2 linked regions of the Homo sapiens genome follow. The protein of the gene in region 2 purifies or fractionates together with the protein of the main gene of each other region. This does not show direct contact. Each region holds a gene or a part of one and is shown on either strand. Other genes may lie near its edges. The genes, in order: NEMF and CYP4V2.

What was found.
Region 1: the proteins of CYP4V2 (region 2) and NEMF purify together in Homo sapiens (affinity purification with mass spectrometry; one large-scale study listed by BioGRID and IntAct). This does not show direct contact.

The regions. Positions count from the first base shown.
Region 1 is NC_000014.9:49,797,157-49,800,983, reverse strand, and holds part of NEMF (ribosome quality control complex subunit NEMF), read left to right. Parts: intron 1-287; coding exon 288-564; intron 565-1,305; coding exon 1,306-1,348; intron 1,349-1,459; coding exon 1,460-1,509; intron 1,510-3,827. UniProt on the Homo sapiens protein: Key component of the ribosome quality control complex (RQC), a ribosome-associated complex that mediates the extraction of incompletely synthesized nascent chains from stalled ribosomes as well as their ubiquitin-mediated proteasomal degradation.
Region 2 is NC_000004.12:186,208,240-186,211,264, reverse strand, and holds part of CYP4V2 (cytochrome P450 4V2), read right to left. Parts: intron 2,401-3,025; coding exon 2,266-2,400; intron 2,173-2,265; coding exon 1,993-2,172; intron 797-1,992; coding exon 624-796; 3' UTR 1-623. UniProt on the Homo sapiens protein: A cytochrome P450 monooxygenase involved in fatty acid metabolism in the eye.

The sequences.
Region 1 (3,827 bases), on a different chromosome or scaffold from region 2:
TTTGGAAATACCCAACTAAGGCAGAGTTGTGGTTTTCATTGTTGAAAGGGTAGCAATGTCCAAGAAATTTATTGTGGTAAAGGATCTTGGAGATCATTTAGTTCAACCTATTCATGATACAGGTTATTCTTTTGTCTAAGAGTACCCTTTGGGAATGATCAGACACTTTTCTGTTGATTTTTTGGAGAAATATGGGAGAAACAGTGGAATATTTTTATGACATTTTTAGGAAATCACCTGGCTTGGTTGGTAGTCCCACACTGACTTTCCTTATGATAATTCTACAGATGGAGGTGACACGAGCAGTGATGAGGATAAAGAAGAACATGAAACTCCTGTGGAAGTAGAACTCATGACTCAGGTTGACCAAGAGGATATCACTCTTCAGAGTGGCAGAGATGAACTAAATGAGGAGCTCATTCAGGAAGAAAGCTCTGAAGACGAAGGAGAATATGAAGAGGTTAGAAAAGATCAGGATTCTGTTGGTGAAATGAAGGATGAAGGGGAAGAGACATTAAATTATCCTGATACTACCATTGACTTGTCTCACCTTCAACCCCAAAGGTAATTAAAAAATAAAATTTTACATATTATTGTGTAAGCTGAGAATGATGATGAGGTAATCCTTACAAAGATAATACCAAGATTGACATCAGTACTTTTACACTCCATTGTCTTAATACTTTTTCAACATTTGATTGGGTCTCTCTGCAAAGAAATTCCCAGGACCAGGGTAGAAAAATACAGTGCATATAGAGTGGCCAAACTAGATCCAAATAGAAACAAGTAAATGGTTATAAATGCTAAAAACATAACAAAGGCAATTCCATCAAAGAAATGTGTTTTAGTCTATATAATGTTTTGCAGATCATCAGGTGAATAGTCCATAGTTATAAATGCATAATTAACTTAGGGGTAATTCAGAACAGTCTAGGAGTCAGACAGACCAGTATTGGGTCTTAGGGTGCGTCCTTGGGAAAATTACTTTGTGCTTAAGCTTCAGTTTCCTTCTTGGTGAAAACAGAATGGTATCCCTTTCATAGGGATTTGGTGAAGGTTTCATGCGTGTATACCATCTGGCAGTGCCTGACACACAGTAAGTTTTCAATACACGTCACCTATTTAAAAATGTATATGGAAGTGTGGAGAGAGGAGCAATTTGGTTGTATGTTTTTCTCACTTCACCAAATTTGAAAATTTGTTGGATTGCCAGTACTTAAGAGTATGATATGGGAATGTTTTGGGACTTTGTAAATGCATGTCTTTTACAGGCTAGTAGAGACTCCCTTGTGTTTATTTTCATAGGTCCATCCAGAAATTGGCTTCAAAAGAGGAATCTTCTAATTCTGTAAGCTATTTTCAGTTTTATGAAGAACATCCGATTCTCAGTGAATAATTTTCTACTTTTCAAAAAAGTTAATAGTGATATTTGCATTTGCCTGTTTTTTTGTTTTAATAGAGTGACAGTAAATCACAGAGCCGGAGACATTTGTCAGCCAAGGAAAGAAGGTAAACACATCTGTGTTAATTAACTAAAAAGCATGTTTTTCTTTTTTTTTTAATTGATAGCTCAGCTACCACAGATTACTTAGCTGTTTAAAGACTTCCTTCATTAAATTTACCAAGATTTAGCACAAATGTTTAGTTTTTAATATTAAGCTCTAATACATTTTTCTGTTTAAGGGCCCTAATCTATAACTATAATCAATGAAATAGACCTAGTAGAGTAAGTCCTCACTTAACATTTTCCTTTTTTTTTTTTTTTTTTTTTTTTTTGAAACAGGGTCTCGCTTTGTTGCCCAGGCTAGAGTGCTATGGCGCAGTCATGGCTCACTGCAGCCTCAAACTCCCAGGCTCAGGCAGTCTCCTGCTTCAGCCTCCTGAGTAGCTGGGACTACAGGCGTGTGCCACTACAAAAATTTTTATAGTTTTTGTAGAGACAGGGTTTCATCATGTTGCCCAGGCTGGTCTTAAACCCCTGGGCTCAAGTGATCCTCCCACCTTGGCTGCCCAAAGTGCTGGGATTACAGACATGAGCCATTGTGCCCGGCCTTCACTTAACATTTTCTTTTTTTTTGAGATGGAGTCTCGCTCTGTCGCCCAGGCTGGAGTGCAGTGGCATGATCTCGGCTCACTGCAAGCCCCACCTCCCGGGTTCACGCCGTTCTCCTGCCTCAGCCTCCCGAGTAGCTGGGACTAGAGGCGCCCACCACCATGCCCGGCTAATTTTTTGTATTTTTAGTAGAGACGGGGTTTCACCGTGTTAGCCAGGATAGTCTCGATCTTCTGACCTCGTGATCACCCGCTTTGGCCTCCGAAAGTGCTGGGATTATAGGCATAAGCCACCGCGCCTGGCCCACTTAACATTTTCAATAGGTTCTTGGAAACTTGGACTTAAGGGAAACAGTGTGTAATGAAACCAGTTTTGCCATGGGCTAATTGATATAAACAAGAGTTAAGTTCCTCTGGCATATTTTTGGTCACAAAACCATCACCAAGCTTCTAAATAAAGACTGAAAACTCTTCTAATATTAAACGTTAAAATAAATGTAAACTGTATGTATATTTAAGAAAGATGAATGAAAGCGAGCAAGATAATTATTTACCCAATTTTTGGTAAATCAATGAGTGATGGCAGTTGTAGTGGTAGTGGGTTAAATCAAGGATTATTTGCAAAGTGAAAACTATAGAGTACCTCCTACTACCATGAGGTTCAAAAACAAAAATGTGGCACATTCATTAAACACTTTCATACTACATTGTTGATTGTTATACATTTGTATGACTATAGTTTATGAATTTTTGACAATCATTTTTATTAAGTCATTCATTCATTCATTCATTCGTTTTTCAACCGCTTATTCCAGTTAAGGGTCATTGGTGGCTAGAGCCTATCCTGGCAGGTCAGGGCAAAAGGCCAGAACCAACCTAGAACAGGATGTCATTCTGTTGCAGGGCACACATACCTGCACTCATTCATGCTGGGATAATTTACACACACCAGTTAACCTGACATGCGCATTTTGGGATGTGAGAGAAAACCTGAGTACCTGGTGAAAACCCACAAAGACATGGGGAGAACATGTAAACTCTGCACAGATGGTAGCCGTGGCCAGGAATCAATTTTGTTCTCATCAAAGTTATAACACAATGATGTTGAATGAAATGATGTTATTTGAGGACTAGCTCTAATAAGACCTTTTATTACATAAACATGTACAATAATGATTTCAGTGTATTACATAGACTAGTTCTAGGGTGATATTGTCAGGAATAAATATGAATACCTGAAATTAGGAAAGTTTTATGTAAGGCAGAATAGTTGATTTTTTGTTTTTTGTTTTTTTTGAGACGGAGTCTCGCTCTGTGGCCCAGGCTGGAGCGCAGTGGCTGCGATCTCGGCTCACTGCAAGCTCTGCCTCCCAGATTCATGCTATTCTCCTGCCTTAGCCTCCCGAGTAGCTGGGACTACAGGCACCCACCACCACGCCCGGCTAATTTTGTTTTTGTATTTTTAGTAGAGATGGGGTTTCACCGTGTTAGGCAGGATTGTCTCGATCTTCTGACCTCGCGATCCACCCGCCTTGGCCTCCCAAAGTGCTGGATTACAGGTGTGAGCCACCGCGCCTGGCCGATTTTTTTTTTTTTTTTAATAGCAGGTCTCAGGAAGCAAGTAGAAGCAAGGGAAGGGCGGAAGGGAAGGGAACAACTACTGTAGGGTGGGAAAGACTAAGCAAACTAAAGCACTCCAGGAAGAGGCCCTAGAACAGAATGGACAATAAAGCCTTTTCATTTGAGAAACATAATCATTGAACAATTACAGAGAA
Region 2 (3,025 bases):
AATTGGACTGTGGATTCCTCTGTTGAGAAACCTGTTAGATGTTTATTTGGGTGCTGACACAATTAACTACTTTTGTGACCACAGCCAACTGTAACATCTATGGTGGTGATAAAAATAAAAAACTCTGGCCAGGCGTGGTGGCTCACGACTATAATCCCAGCACTTTGGGAGGCTGAGGCAGGTGGATCACTTGAGGTCAGGAGTTTGAGACCAGTCTGGCCAACATGGTGACACCCTGTTTCTACTAAAAATACAAAAAAATTAGCCAGGCATGGTGGCAGGCACCTGTAATCCCAGCTACTTGGGAGGCTGAGGCAGAAGAATTGCTTGAACCTGGGAGGTGGAGGTTGCAGTGAGCTGAGATCACACCACTGCACTCCTCCAGCCTGGGCGACAGAGTGAGACACGGTTTCAAAAAAAAAAAATAAAGAAAAAAGAAAAAAGAAAATACAAAACTCAAAACTTTTTCTTTGTTAGACTTGATGTCAAGATCAGTGGGATCAAGGAAAAATTAGGTCTAGGGGATTCAAGCATATTGAACTCATGATCTGTAAATTGTAAATGACAAGGATCTCTTAAAATAAAGACCTTTCTCATGATAAAGGCACAACCCAATAATATAGTTAGCGTTCATCTGCATTTCTCCTCTTCAACTTGATCCAGATGCCATTACTTGGACGAAGAATCAACTGTCCTTCTAGACCAAGCTCTTCTCTTTTCTGGTTGGATTCTATCCAAAAGTGCCTCAGGATGCACGAAAGAATGGTCTTTTCTTCCATCACAGCAAACTTTTGACCTTCAAATTAATGTAGATACCATCGCTTTAGTTATAGATTTACCCCAAATGTGAGAAACAAGAGGTCCTGTCATAGGAAGCGAGCCACTTTACATTTTCGCAGTAGGTGGAAGGAGAACCAGAATGGCTTGGAACACCTGTTAAAGATGAAGAGTCTTGAGTTTCCCTCCCTGATCCCACCTTGCACATCTATAGCTGGGGAGGATCAGAGAATTTGTACTCCAGCTGATCCAGATAAATCCTGAGCTCCTTCAAGCTTGAGACTCACTACCCTAGATTATGTCTTAGTGGGTCTTTCATTTACTATGGATTCACCAAAAAAGCTTCAGATTCACCCGTTTCACTCTGGCCTCATTTTACCGATGTCTGCATTTACATAAATGACAAAATGCTAGAGATACTAAAACCAAAAGGGTTTATAATGCAGGGTGGTGATGTGCATTCATTTTGCTTAAGTACTAGCTGGCCATATGGCAAGCATTTGCTGTTTTGATTTGCAAAATGAAATTCTTAAAAGCAATAAACACAAAAATTAGGTTAACCATAAGTAATCATTAATAAAGTTTTTACCACAATAAGTTATATTCTACTGTAATTAAAACTCTACAACATTTTGAAACTCTACCATGAAGCTAATTATGTTTTATGTTATGGGTAATTGTGTCTCTCTCCAAATTCTAAGCCCCCCCCATACCTTAGAATATGACTGTATTTGGAGACAGGTAATCGAAAGAGGTCAGTAAGTATAAGTGAGGTCATTGGGGTAGGCCCTAGTGTAGTCTGACTGGAGAGAAGATCAGGACACAGACCCACACAGAGGAAAGACCAAGTGAAGACATAAGGAGAAAATGGCATCTACAAGCCACGGAGAGAGGCCTCAGGAGAAACCAGCCCTGCCAACACCTTGTTCTTGAACTTCCAGCCTCCAGAACTGTGAGAAAATAAATTTCTGCTGTTTAAGCCACCCAGTCTGTGGTATTTTGCTATGGAAGCCCATGCAGGCGAATATACTAATATACCTTTTGACCGTAATATTTTAAAACTACAAAGCACAGTGAGGGAAAAAAGAAACCACCTATTTTTTTTTTAAGGCTGTTGCATATGGGCAATGTCACATCACATCTCAAAGAAATCACTGTGAGAAACCCACCATCAAGTGGGCCTGAAAGGTCAAACCAATTCAGATGGATACAAACCTATACAGTTCCTGGGGCCAGCAGAGAAGGGCACGTAGGCATATGGATGGCGCCCTTGTGCATTCTCGGGGAAGAACCGCTCAGGCTGGAACTCCTCGGGGTTGGGGAAGTATCTCGGATCTCTGTGCAATGCATAGGGAATGATGACGGCTTCAGTGCCTTTTAGAACTCTGTAACCTGCTGTCAAGAAGTAGTCAATACATTATGAGACCGGAGCAAGGTAGACATTAGAAAGTTTCCCTCTCCCTTCTACTTTAGGTATAGCATACTTACCCACTTCACAATCTTCACTAACACTACGGGCAAATAAAGGAACAGAAGGAAAAAGGCGAAGGGTCTCCTTAATAACACATTCCAGATACCGAAGTTTCTTCAGGTCTTCTACTGTAGCGGGACGGTCAGACTTCCCTGATGAAAGCAAGTAGATAAGATGACCTGAAAGAGCAGTGGGGGCTGGGGGTGCAGACATCTAAAAAGAACAGGTGGATCAAGGCATGGCATGCTAAATACCCATCAAATACCCAACAAAGAAGAACACGTGGATCAAGGCAGGGGATGCTAAATACCCATCAAATGCCCATCAAAGAAGAACATGTGGATCAAGGTACTGGATGCTAAATACCCATCAAATACCCTTCAAAGAAAAACACGTGGACCAAGGCAGGGGATGCTAAATACCCATCAAATACCCTTCAAAGAAGAACATGTGGATCAAGGTACTGGATGCTAAATACCCATCAAATACCCATCAAAGAACACGTGGATCAAGGTACTAGATGCTAAATACGCATCAAATACCCTTCAAAGAAGAACATGTGGATCAAGGCAGGGGATGCTAAATACCCATCAAATGCCCATCAAAGAAGAACACTTGGATCAAGGTACTGGATGCTAAATACCCATCAAATACCCTTCAAAGAAGAACACGTGGATCAAGGTACTGGATGCTAAATACCCATCAAATACCCTTCAAAGAAGAACACGTGGATCAAGGCAGGGGATGCTAAATACCCATCAAATACGCATCAAATAC